2 separate regions of the Homo sapiens genome follow, and region 1 is linked to region 2. Evidence: fine-mapped expression QTL. A gene starts in region 2. The other region holds a variant in brackets. All regions are shown on one strand. Distances are between the middles of the regions.

Region 1 (5,376 bases), 480 kb after region 2:
GTCTGGAACTCCTGGCCCCAAGTGATCCTCCTGCCTCGGCCTCCCAAAGTGCTGGTATTATAGGTGAGAGCCACTGCGCCCGGCCCTCTTTCAGTAATTTTGATGTATTTTTTTGTATATGATTCCTGTTTCATTCTGTCCAACCAGCACTCTGTATGGTATGTGCTGTTGTCCCCATTTCACAGATGCAGAAATTAAGGGTCAGAGAGGTTAAGGGACTTACCTCAGGCACGTTGTACTGGAGAAGCTGAACTCCAAGAGCAGGTTTGGGCTGACTCCAAAGCCCTATGCTTTTTGCCAACATATTTTCAAACATAAATAGACAATTTTATAAATAGCTCCAAAGAGTAGACATTGTTTCTGTTGATATTAATGGCTTGGTTTTGAGTCTGAAACCCCCATGAATGATTCTGTTGTCCCTGCTTTTTGTCCTTCTGCCCGCAGTGCTGGAATTGGCCGGACAGGGACGTTCATTGTGATTGATATTCTTATTGACATCATCAGAGAGAAAGGTGGGTCATCTGGTGGGCAAGAAGCGACAGTTTCTGTTTTTAGTTTATGGAAGGAAAGTGCTCACGAAAACAGTCTGGGGAAGAGAGGTTGAATGGGAAAATTCTTTCACAAAAATCTGGGCTGAAGACTTCAGTGTGTCTGCCTGAGAACAGAAGTGACACTATTTGAGCTTTTGGCATAAAATGAAGTCTAGGAGCTGCAGAACCCACTGCCATGGCCTTTTGTTGCATACACAGTGGTGGTCTCTATCCAGCCACCTGACCTTGTTTACAGTATGGGGTGATTTGTTGGCAAGTGAGGGAATCCTGACTTCTGCCACTTCGTTATTTATGTAGTCTTCTGGGATCATTGGTATTGGTCAGAAGTTCAACACTGTAGCCATTGCAACATGCTCAGTTAAAACAGCAAAGACTAAATTAGCATTGTCTCTGAGTCCACTAAAAGTTGTGCATTAAACAACTTCATCCTGGCTCTGCAGTTTCTCTTTATTCTTCATGATGTTTCCTTCGTAGGTGTTGACTGCGATATTGACGTTCCCAAAACCATCCAGATGGTGCGGTCTCAGAGGTCAGGGATGGTCCAGACAGAAGCACAGTACCGATTTATCTATATGGCGGTCCAGCATTATATTGAAACACTACAGCGCAGGATTGAAGAAGAGCAGGTACCAGCCTGAGGGCTGGCATGCGGATTCTCATTCTCTTGCTAGGCCTCTTGGATACGCTCTCCTTTTGAGCAGGAGGACAGGCTCTGATAGACAACTGTTTGATTTCGGAATGGGAAACAAACTCCCAACTAAAAGGGCCTCTGGAAACTGTCAATTATTCTCCACTTCTCAGCTCTGATTTTTCACTGCAGAGGAGCTTAGGGAAGGGCACCATCCTATCAGCCTGGCCTGCCAGATTGAAGAACTGCCATGCAGAAAGGTTCTGATGTTCTCAGGCTCATGTGGCAAGCGTAAAACTCAAAGCCTTGAAGTTTCTAGCCTGTTCCAGCCTTGATCCAGGCCATGTTTATCCTGATTCCATCCTTTAAAACGAATGCCTCACTCTTAATAGCGCACGGCAGTTTGAACCACTAATTTGGTCGAGTTGGAAACAGTGAAATTTCAATTTTAATAAGCTGTGCATAATGAAGAGGAATGTGGAATTGGAGCCTTTCCATCTGAAGCTATTCATAACAGGCACAAAGCTGAGTTAATTAGGAATATGCTGAGATGAAGGAAATGAGGAGAGCTGCTCTTTTGGGGGCTGTGCTTCTCTCCCCAACCCCTCAACCCCATTGCCATGCTGCAGATGGGGTGGTGTCTAAACATCAGTGGCGAGTGCCTGCATTACTCTGCTCGTTGCCTTCCAGAGAACTCAGCTTCTCCAAATGCTGAGCTCTTTTCAGAATGGGACCTGCCACCAGTATTTGAAAGATTTCTAGCCTAGCAGAACAGCAGCCACGTTATCAAAGTTTGGTTGGCCAAAGGAAGGTACTTGCTAATTAGTTTAGTAGGTTTTCAGTCCGCACAGACATACGGGATTGTTTTATTGTACATAGACATCTTCAGAAACAGTGTATGTATAGAAATGTAAGGTCAAAATTTGAACCTCAGTGCTTTAAATCTGAATTTGTATTAACTGATATGAAATATTTAGACGGTTACTTTATTTTATATCTGTCTTCCATTATACTTAATTTGGCTCAAGAATAGTTAGGCAAAAAGTTGCCCAAAGAGAAGGATCTCCTAGTAAATACAAAGAGAATGTAACATAGTTGCTACAAGTTGGAGCATGTTCAGGGATGTCTTTTTTTTTTTTTTTTTTTGAGAGAGAGGTCTCTCTCTGTTGCCCAGGCTGGAGTGCAGTGGTGTAATCATGGCTCACTGCAGCCTCAATCTCCCAGGCTTAAGCGATCCTCCCACCTCAGCCTCCCAAGTAGCTGGGACTATAGGCATGCGCCACCACACCTAGCTAATTTTCGCATTTTTTGTAGTGTCACAGTTTCGCCATGTTGCCCAGGCTAGTCTCGAATTCCTAGGCTCAAGCAGTGCTTCTGCCTCAGCCTCTCTGAGTAGTTAGGACTACAAATTTGTGGCTCCATGCCCGGCTAATTTTTTTATCTTTATTTTGTAGAGACAAGGTCTCACTGTGTTGCCCAGGCTAGTCTTGAACTCCTGGGCTCAAACAACCCTCCCACTTTGGGTTTCCAAAGTGCTGGGATTACAAGTGTGAGCCACTGAGCCCAGTGACCTCTGGGTTTTAAAAATGTGTAGGCTTCAATTATTTATTTTAA[A/G]AAATGAAATCCTGCAATATATAGTTTTCTGCGTTGTGTGGTTTGAATCAATCTGGGAACTGGCTTGCTGGCTGATTGTGGTAAAGTAAGAAGTACTTAATTTAGTAGAAAGTTTAAATGGCAGACATAACATTAAACCCAGCTGATTTATAAATGAAGCAAAAGAACAAAACTCATTCAGGATAATTGGTTATTCTAAAATACAGTCATTTCTAAAATTATGAAGTGTTCAGGACCTTTGGGAGTGAAAGAATTTGCTAAAGAAGGATCAGTGAAAAAAAGGAATGATGGGTGAAGAGCTGTGGAGAAGGAAGAGAAGAAACAGCACAAGGAAGGAAGAATATAAAATCAGATGTGGGAATCCAGGGGAAAGTGCAAACGAAGCAAGATTGAGAAAATTCTCAAGTTTTTATAAACAGTTCTCACACTCTGCCAGTTCCTTGGAGGTAGACTTTTTTGTTAACTTCCAACTACAGTAGTGAAAAAAAAAAAAAAACCCTCAAATTTGCAAAAGCAGTCTGTGGAATTTTCTTTACCCAGCTTTCCTGACTGTTAACTTTTTAGCACACTTAACTTTATCATTCGTTTATTCTCTCTGTTTAAAATTAAAAATGTAAATTTTAAAAAGTAAAATGTTTGTTGGTTACAAACATTTATACCCCTTTGTCTCTAAATATCATTTCATTTTAAAAAATGAATAATCTAAGCCTACACATTCTAAAATGTGTATATTTTCTAAAAATAAGGGCATTCTCTTACATAACCAATGTCACAATTATTTGATACAGTGATCAAAATCAGGAAACTAACATTGATATAACACTATTATCTAACCTACAGACCATCTTCAAATTTTGTCCTGCTAGTATCTTTTATGGGTCCAGGGTCACACAGTGCATTTGGCTATAATGTATCTTTTTTCTCTTTTTTTGAGACAGGGTCTCACTTTGTTGCCCAGGTTGGAGTGCAGTGGTGCAATTATGGCTCACGGCAGCCTTGACCTCCTTGGGCTCAGGTGATCCTCCCACCTCAGCCTCTCGAGTAGCTGGAGACCACAGGTGTGCACCACCATGCCTGGCTAAGTTTTGTATTTTTTGTAGAGATGGAGCTTCGCCGTGTTGCCCCGGCTGGCCTTGAACTCCTGGGCTCAAGTGACCCTCCCGCCTTGGCCTCCCAAAGTGCTGGGATTACAGGCGTGAGTCACCACACCTGGCCAGTTATTAGTATGTTTAGTCTCTTTAATCTGGAACAGTTTCTCAGTCATTCTTTATTTTTCATGACCTGGATGTTTTTGAAGAGTTTAGGCCAGCTATTTAGCAGAATGCCTTTCAGTTTGGATTTGTCCAGTGTTTTCTCTTGACTATATTCTAGTCATGCATTTTTGGCAGGACTGTCACAGAAATGTTGTTGTAGTCTTCTTAGTACATCACATCAGGTACACACTGTTGATCTGATTCATTACTAGTGGTGTTAACTTTGATCACTTGAATAAGGTGGTGTCTGTCAAATTTGTCCACCGTAAAGTTACTTGAGCAAAACGTAGCTGGGACTACAGGCGTAGCAAAAAATGTAGCAAAAAGTAGTATTTTTGCTACATTTTTTTTTTAGGAACAAAGTATTTTTCCCTTTTAAGTTAATCTCTTGTCCATAAAGTTATTATTTTTCCCTTTTAAGTTAATATCTTGTGGGTAGATACTGGAGACTGCGTAAATTACCTATTTCTCATAATACTTTTTTTTTTTTTGAGATGGAGTCTCGCACCGTCTCCCAGGCTGGAGTGCAGTGGTGCAATCTCGGGTCACTGCAAGCTCCACCTCCCGGGTTGACGCCATTCTCCTGCCTCAGCCTCCCAAGTAGTTGGGACTACAGGCGCCCGCCATCACACCTGGCTAATTTTTTGTATTTTTAGTAGAGACGGGGTCTCACCGTGTTAGCCAGGATGGTCTTGATCTCCTGACCTTGTGATCTGCCCGCCTTGGCCTCCCAAAGTGCTGGGATTACAGATGTGAGTCACTGCGCCCGGCTCTCATAATACTTTTTGCCTACTAATTTTATATTCATTGATTAAATTCTTGCCTGAAAAAATTATTACTGTGGTATTTGCCAAATGGCAATTTTCTGTTTCCATCATTGCCTTTCCCCCGCTTTTAAAAGTATAAGTGACAAAGAAAAACTGTATATAAAGTGTACACCATGATATTTTGATATATGTATACTTTGTGAAATGATTATCAAAATTGAGTTAAATAATGCATCCAACATCTCAGTTACTTTTTTTTTTTTTTGAGACAGAGTCTTGGTTTGTCACTAAGGCTGGAGTGCAGTGCCACAATCTCGGCTCATTACAACCTCCACCTCCCAGGTTCAAGTGATTCTCCTGCCTTGGCCTCCCCAGTAGCTGGGATTACAGGTGCCCACCATCACACCCGGCTAATTTTTGTATTTTTAGTAGAGGTGGGGTTTCACTACGTTGGCCAGGCTGGTCTCGAACTCCTGACCTCAAATGATCCTCCCGTCTCAGCTTTCCAAAGTGGTGGGATTACAGGCGTGAGCCACTGTGCCCGGCCACTCTTAGTAAATTTT
Region 2 (5,376 bases):
GGGCAGGCCAGAAGATGCACCACGAGTCCCTACTCCAGTCTGCAGGACTGGCAGCCTGGACCCCTGTCTTCAGGCCCTCCCTGACCTGAAGGTGGGGTCTTACTGGGGACTCACCCACTTCTACCCTGGAATCAATCTGCCTCCCATTGCCATTCTTGGCCCCAAGCCCGCTCTGAGATTGGAGCAGGCCCCGGGAGTAGAGAGAGTCCAGGCGGTGGGAACAGACACTCCTGAGCCTGCAGGGATTGCAGTAGGGTGTCTTGCTGGTCCCCCAAGGGTGCAGGCTGCAGAGATGCCCAGGTCCTGCACCTGGGAGGGCAGCCACAATGGCACCAGGGGCTCCTGCCTCAACTCAGAAGGGGCGGGGCTCCCACAGGCTCCATGGAGTGTGCAGCCCCAGTCACACCTCCCTGCTGCAGCTGGCTGCCATCAATAGGGCAAACTCAAAATTTTTCTTAACTTCCCCAGACACATTCACACATACACACACACAAACACACACACACTTTCTTTCAAAATTTATATCCAATCAAACTGGTTGTCCATGATTGGATCCTGTTATCACTGTTGACTATTTATACACATACATTTTGGAAACATACAATGGTTAATTATAGCAGTAAGTCCCTTACAATGCATTGTATATGTTCTCTTACATGCATTTGTTCATCAAATCTTGTGAATTCTACCCTTTAAAAGTTTGTCAATTCCATCCATACTTCTTCAGCCCTATTATGTCCTACTGCATGACCTTAACCTCTTCCAACTAGACTATTGCCATACCCCATTAATTGGCTTTAGTCCCGTCTTCTCAATTCCAATCCATTTCCTTCATTCCTGAGTAATGTTGTTTTTGTTTTGAGACAGTCTTCTCTGTTGCCCAGACTGGAGTGCAGTGGCAGCAATCAGGGCTGACTGCAGCCTCGACCCCTCAGGTCCAAGTGATCCTGCTGCCTCAGCCTCCCAAGTACCTGGGACCACAGGCATGCACTACCACACATGGCTAATTTTTCTACTTATTGTAGAGACGAGGTTTCATTACGTTGCCCAGGCTGACCTGGGTGCTGTTTCTACACACAAATCTAACCTCACTCTCCTAGTTAAAACTTCTGGTGACTCCAAACCCTTTAGCTTGGTGAGACCCTTTCGAATCCGCCCCATGGAAGCTCAGTAATAATCAATCAAAATAAAAAAGAGCGGCAGCAGCTGTTGCGCCAGTTCGCCTTTACATAGATTCATCTCAACCAGTTCCCCAACATGCCTGTGCATAATTTTCCCATTGTTAGAAATGCCCTGTTTCTCTTTGCCTCATGCACGCCCCCTCTTATTTCAAGGTCCAGCTCAAAAGTCACCTCCTGTCTACAACTTCCTCTGATGCTCCTGAGCAGGGATGGCTGAATCTCTGTCTCTTTACAATAAGAAAATACGGTCTTTTTTTTTCTTTTTGAGACTGAGTCTCGCTCTGTCACCTAGGCTGAAGTGCAATGGCGAAATCTCGGCTCACCCCAACTTCCGCCTCCTGGGTTCATGCAATTCTCCTGCCTCAGCCTCTTGAGTAGCTGGGATTACAGGCACGCACCACCACACTCGCCTGATTTTTAGTAGAAACGGGGTTTCACCATGTTGGCCAGGCTGGTCTCGAACTCCTGACCTCAGGTAATCCACCTGCCTCGGCCTCCCAAAGTGCTGGGATTACAGACGTGAGTCAACGCGCCCAGCCGGAATAATATTTTACAGCAATTACACTGCACTGTTTAGATCATTATTCCTATGCCGCCTCCTCCCCCAACAAAGTGCGTGCCTTCAGCACACAACGGTCTTGTTTCTGCTTATTCCGTAGCCCCGCAGGCAAAGCCAGAGTCTGGCACAAGCCAGGGACCGAGTGACTACCTGCGGAACAGAATGATTAGAATTGCGTCTGGGGTTCCTGGAGGGTGGGCCTTGGCTGGGCGGATCCCAGGAGCCTGGCGTCTCCCAGGGGAGGCGCTCACCTCAGATCGGGCCTAAGAGGGCCCTGCTTGCCACACTGACCGCCAAGCCTGGCCAAAAAGCTCAGGGAAGCCGCGGAGCCACTGCCCGCCTGGGTCAGGGTGGTGACGGAGCCTGACTGAGAATAACGGCTGAACTTGACTAATAGACTGACCGAGGGTTGGAGCGGGTCCCAACCAACTGCCTGACGGCCCAAAGGCAGGAAGAAACGATGGTAGGCCTTGTCATCTTCGAAGGAGAGGAAGGACAGCAAACGAATTGCTATAGCGTCCCCATGCGCACTTGGCGCTTCTCCTCAAGCGGAGCAGGAACGGAACTGGGCGGACCCGCCGGAAGACTCGGCGAGTGCGCGCGCGCAGGAGCCCATTTTCCCGCCCGCAACGTGGCCCCGCCCTTTTACCCAGGCCCTACGCGAGCTTCGCCGAGTACGCGTGCGCAGCAGCTTCCCCTCCCTCGCCCCGCCCCTCACGTGGCCCCACCCTCTCACCCTAGACAGATGGGAGCCTCCTGGGGTGTCCACGTGAGCGCGCGTGAGTCCGCCCCCCCAGTCACGTGACCGCTGACTCGGGGCGTTCTCCACTATCGCTTACCTACCTCCCTCTGCAGGAACCCGGCGATATGGCTGCCGCTGTGCCCCGCGCCGCATTTCTCTCCCCGCTGCTTCCCCTTCTCCTGGGCTTCCTGCTCCTCTCCGCTCCGCATGGCGGCAGCGGCCTGCACACCAAGGGCGCCCTTCCCCTGGATACGGTCACTTTCTACAAGGTAACCGGGGCGGGGGACGTCGCGCGCAGGTGCCGCCGGGGCGCCCGGAAGAGCGCGCGCCCGTGGGGAGACGCTGGATTCCGGGAGCTGACGGGAGGTGGTCTGTAGCAACGGTCCCAGAGCTTCCCGGCGTCCTACAGGCCTAGTGGACTCTGAGCGGAGAATGTTATGACCACCGGGCATGCACGCTTCAGGGCCCCGGCGCACCCTTGCTTTTGCAGCATTTATACTTGCATCCACCCTTGCAAAGATGCAGCCGAGGGAACTGGGTGCCCCTTCCCTTCACCTGTGGGGAGAGGGCGGTGCCTGGCGAGATCCAACCCTCGAGTCCCAAGTGGGAGAACCGGAGGGCGGTGCGAGGTCGACGCCACCGGGCTCCCGGCTGTGGAAGCTGGGAGGGGTTGGCGGGGGGAAATGCAGGCGCGTTAGCCTGCGTGTCCGCGCCCCTCTTCCCAGGGTTGGATTGCAGCCTGCTTTGCAGTGTGCAAACAATGATCAGATATCATACATCTTGAATAGTGCAAGCGTGAAGAATAAGCTTCAGTTCAGCCACCCTGTAAAGCAGGGGTCCCCAACCACCAGGCCCGTCGGTGGCCTGTTAGAAACCGGGCCGCACAGCAGGAGGTGAGCGGCAGGCGAGCTAGCACTACAGCCTGAGCTCCGCCTCCTGTTACATCAGCTGCGGCATTACATTCTCATAGGAGCACGACCTTTATTGTGAACTACGCATGTGAGGGATCCAGGTTGTGTGCTTCTTATCAGAATCTAATGCCTGATGATCTGAGGCGAAACAGGTTCATGTCGAAACCACCCAACCCCGTGGAAAAGTTGTCTTCCATGAAACCAGTTCTTGGTGCCAAAAAGGTTGGGGATAGCTGTTGTAGGAAACATCTTGGGGTTGGCAACAAAATCAGTAAAATTGGGTCAAGGCATGGAAGAATTTGCCACTACCTCCGCCTTTCCCCCCTTCCATTTTTGCAGAATTAGGGATCCTGGCCTGAGTAAATGGACGGTTGGAAATGGTGGCTGAATGCAACACCGCAGTCCCAGTCCCCTCCTCTTGCACCTGTCTTCACCCACGAGCAGCTTTTAACTTCCTCTAGGAGATGGGCAAGCTTAGTGTTGCGAGAGAGCCAGTCATTTCATTTTCAGGTTTTGTACTCATTGTGGGGAAGTGAAACCAAGAAGTAGTTGTCTCCAGTGGTTGAAGTCTCCTATTTTCAAGCGTTCCCTGTCGTGGATTTGGCACTTGCAGCTCATTCAAGGCAAAGTTTCAAGAATTTAAAAGTGTAGGCCGGGCTTAGTGGCTCACGCCTGTAATCCCAGCACTTTGGGAGGCTGAGGCGGGTAGATCACCTGAGGTCAGGAGTTTGAGACCAGCCTGACCAACAAGGTGAAACCCCGTCCCTACTAAAAATACAAAAATTAGCTGGGCGTGGTGGTGGACACCTGTAGTCCCAGCTCCTCGGGAGGCTTAGACAGGAGAATTGCTTGAACCCAGGAGGCGGAGGTTGCGGTGAGCCAAGATCACGCCACTGCACTCCAGCCTGGGCGACAGAGCAAATACTCCGTCTCAAAAAAAAAAAAAAAAGTGTGGGCTGGGTGCGGTGGCTCATGCTTGTAATCCCGGCACTTTGGGAGGCTGAGGCAGGTAGATCACCTGAGGTCAGGAGTTGGAGACCAGCCTGGCCAACATGGTGAAACCCTGTCTCTACTAAAAATACAAAAATTAGCTGGGCGTGGTGGCGGGTGCCTGTAATCCCAGCTACTCGGGAGGCTGAGGCAGGAGAATTGCTTGAACCTGGGAGGTGGAGGTTGCAGTAAGCCGTCATCATGCCATGACACTCCAGCCTGGGCAACAAGAGCAAAACTCTGTCTCAAAAAAAAAAAAAATGGTGTAGGTGTGGCTGATTGGTTGTCAGGCATGCTCAGACACACCCTACAGCACCCTATGCTTTGGGGGCCTTTACTGGCAAAATGACACCCCTACCCCACCCTGCTCCATGGGAATCAGATAATATCACAGAACAAGTGTGACCCAAAGGGAAACTTTGCGCCATAAAGCTAACAGTGTTTTCTACTATTACCACCCTAGTCTAGGTCAACATTACAATAGCCTCTTCTCTGGTCTCCCTGCTTCCACTCTTGAGTCTCCACACAGTAGCCTAAGTTCTATATGACCTGACTCCTGGCTTCCCTCTCATCTCCCAACCATTCTCCTACTGTCTTTTGAATATTCCTTGCTCTTTACTGCCTTAGGATATGTTGCACTAGTTGTTCCTTGTGACTGGAATATTCTCTGCCCAAACTTTGAAAGGCTAGTTAGTTACTTCTCATCATTCGGGCTTAGGTTAAGTGTTTCCTCCTTAGAGTTCTTCCTTGATTTATCTTCCCCCCAGTCTAAAGTGCCAGTCACATTAATCTGTTTTATTTCTCCATACAGCACTCATCACTGATTTTTTAAAAATCTATTTTGCCATCTTTCTCTCTCACTGGAATATTATGTGCTCATGAAGAAGCTCCTTGTCTATTTTGTTCCTGATCGTCTGCGCTGCATAACAGATTACCTGTCTCATAGAAGGTGCACAATAACTATTTTGTTGCGTGAATGAACAAACGTTTTCT

What was found. PIP is the estimated chance that this variant, and not a neighbour inherited with it, causes the effect.
Region 1: its variant is the best candidate, but not a certain one, in a credible set for the expression of TMEM116 in fibroblasts (GTEx, PIP 0.58).

Annotation. Positions count from the first base shown.
Region 1 is chr12:112,487,999-112,493,374 of GRCh38, forward strand. PTPN11 (protein tyrosine phosphatase non-receptor type 11) reads left to right here. Exons shown (of 16, transcript NM_002834.5): 12 at 445-512; 13 at 1,026-1,177. LOC124903024 (a long non-coding RNA gene) reads left to right here and starts at 1,186. Exons shown (of 2, transcript XR_007063467.1): 1 at 1,186-1,990; 2 at 3,020-3,426. The variant A/G (reference allele first, on the strand shown) is at 2,794.
Region 2 is chr12:112,010,859-112,016,234 of GRCh38, forward strand. TMEM116 (transmembrane protein 116) reads right to left here and starts at 2,307. Exons shown (of 11, transcript NM_001193531.2): 1 at 2,144-2,307. It overlaps ERP29 (endoplasmic reticulum protein 29), which reads left to right and starts at 2,568. Exons shown (of 3, transcript NM_006817.4): 1 at 2,568-2,751. The coding sequence starts at 2,608. RefSeq lists enhancers at 265-778, 1,283-2,171, 2,042-2,231, 3,902-4,041 and silencers at 2,392-2,471, 2,812-2,901.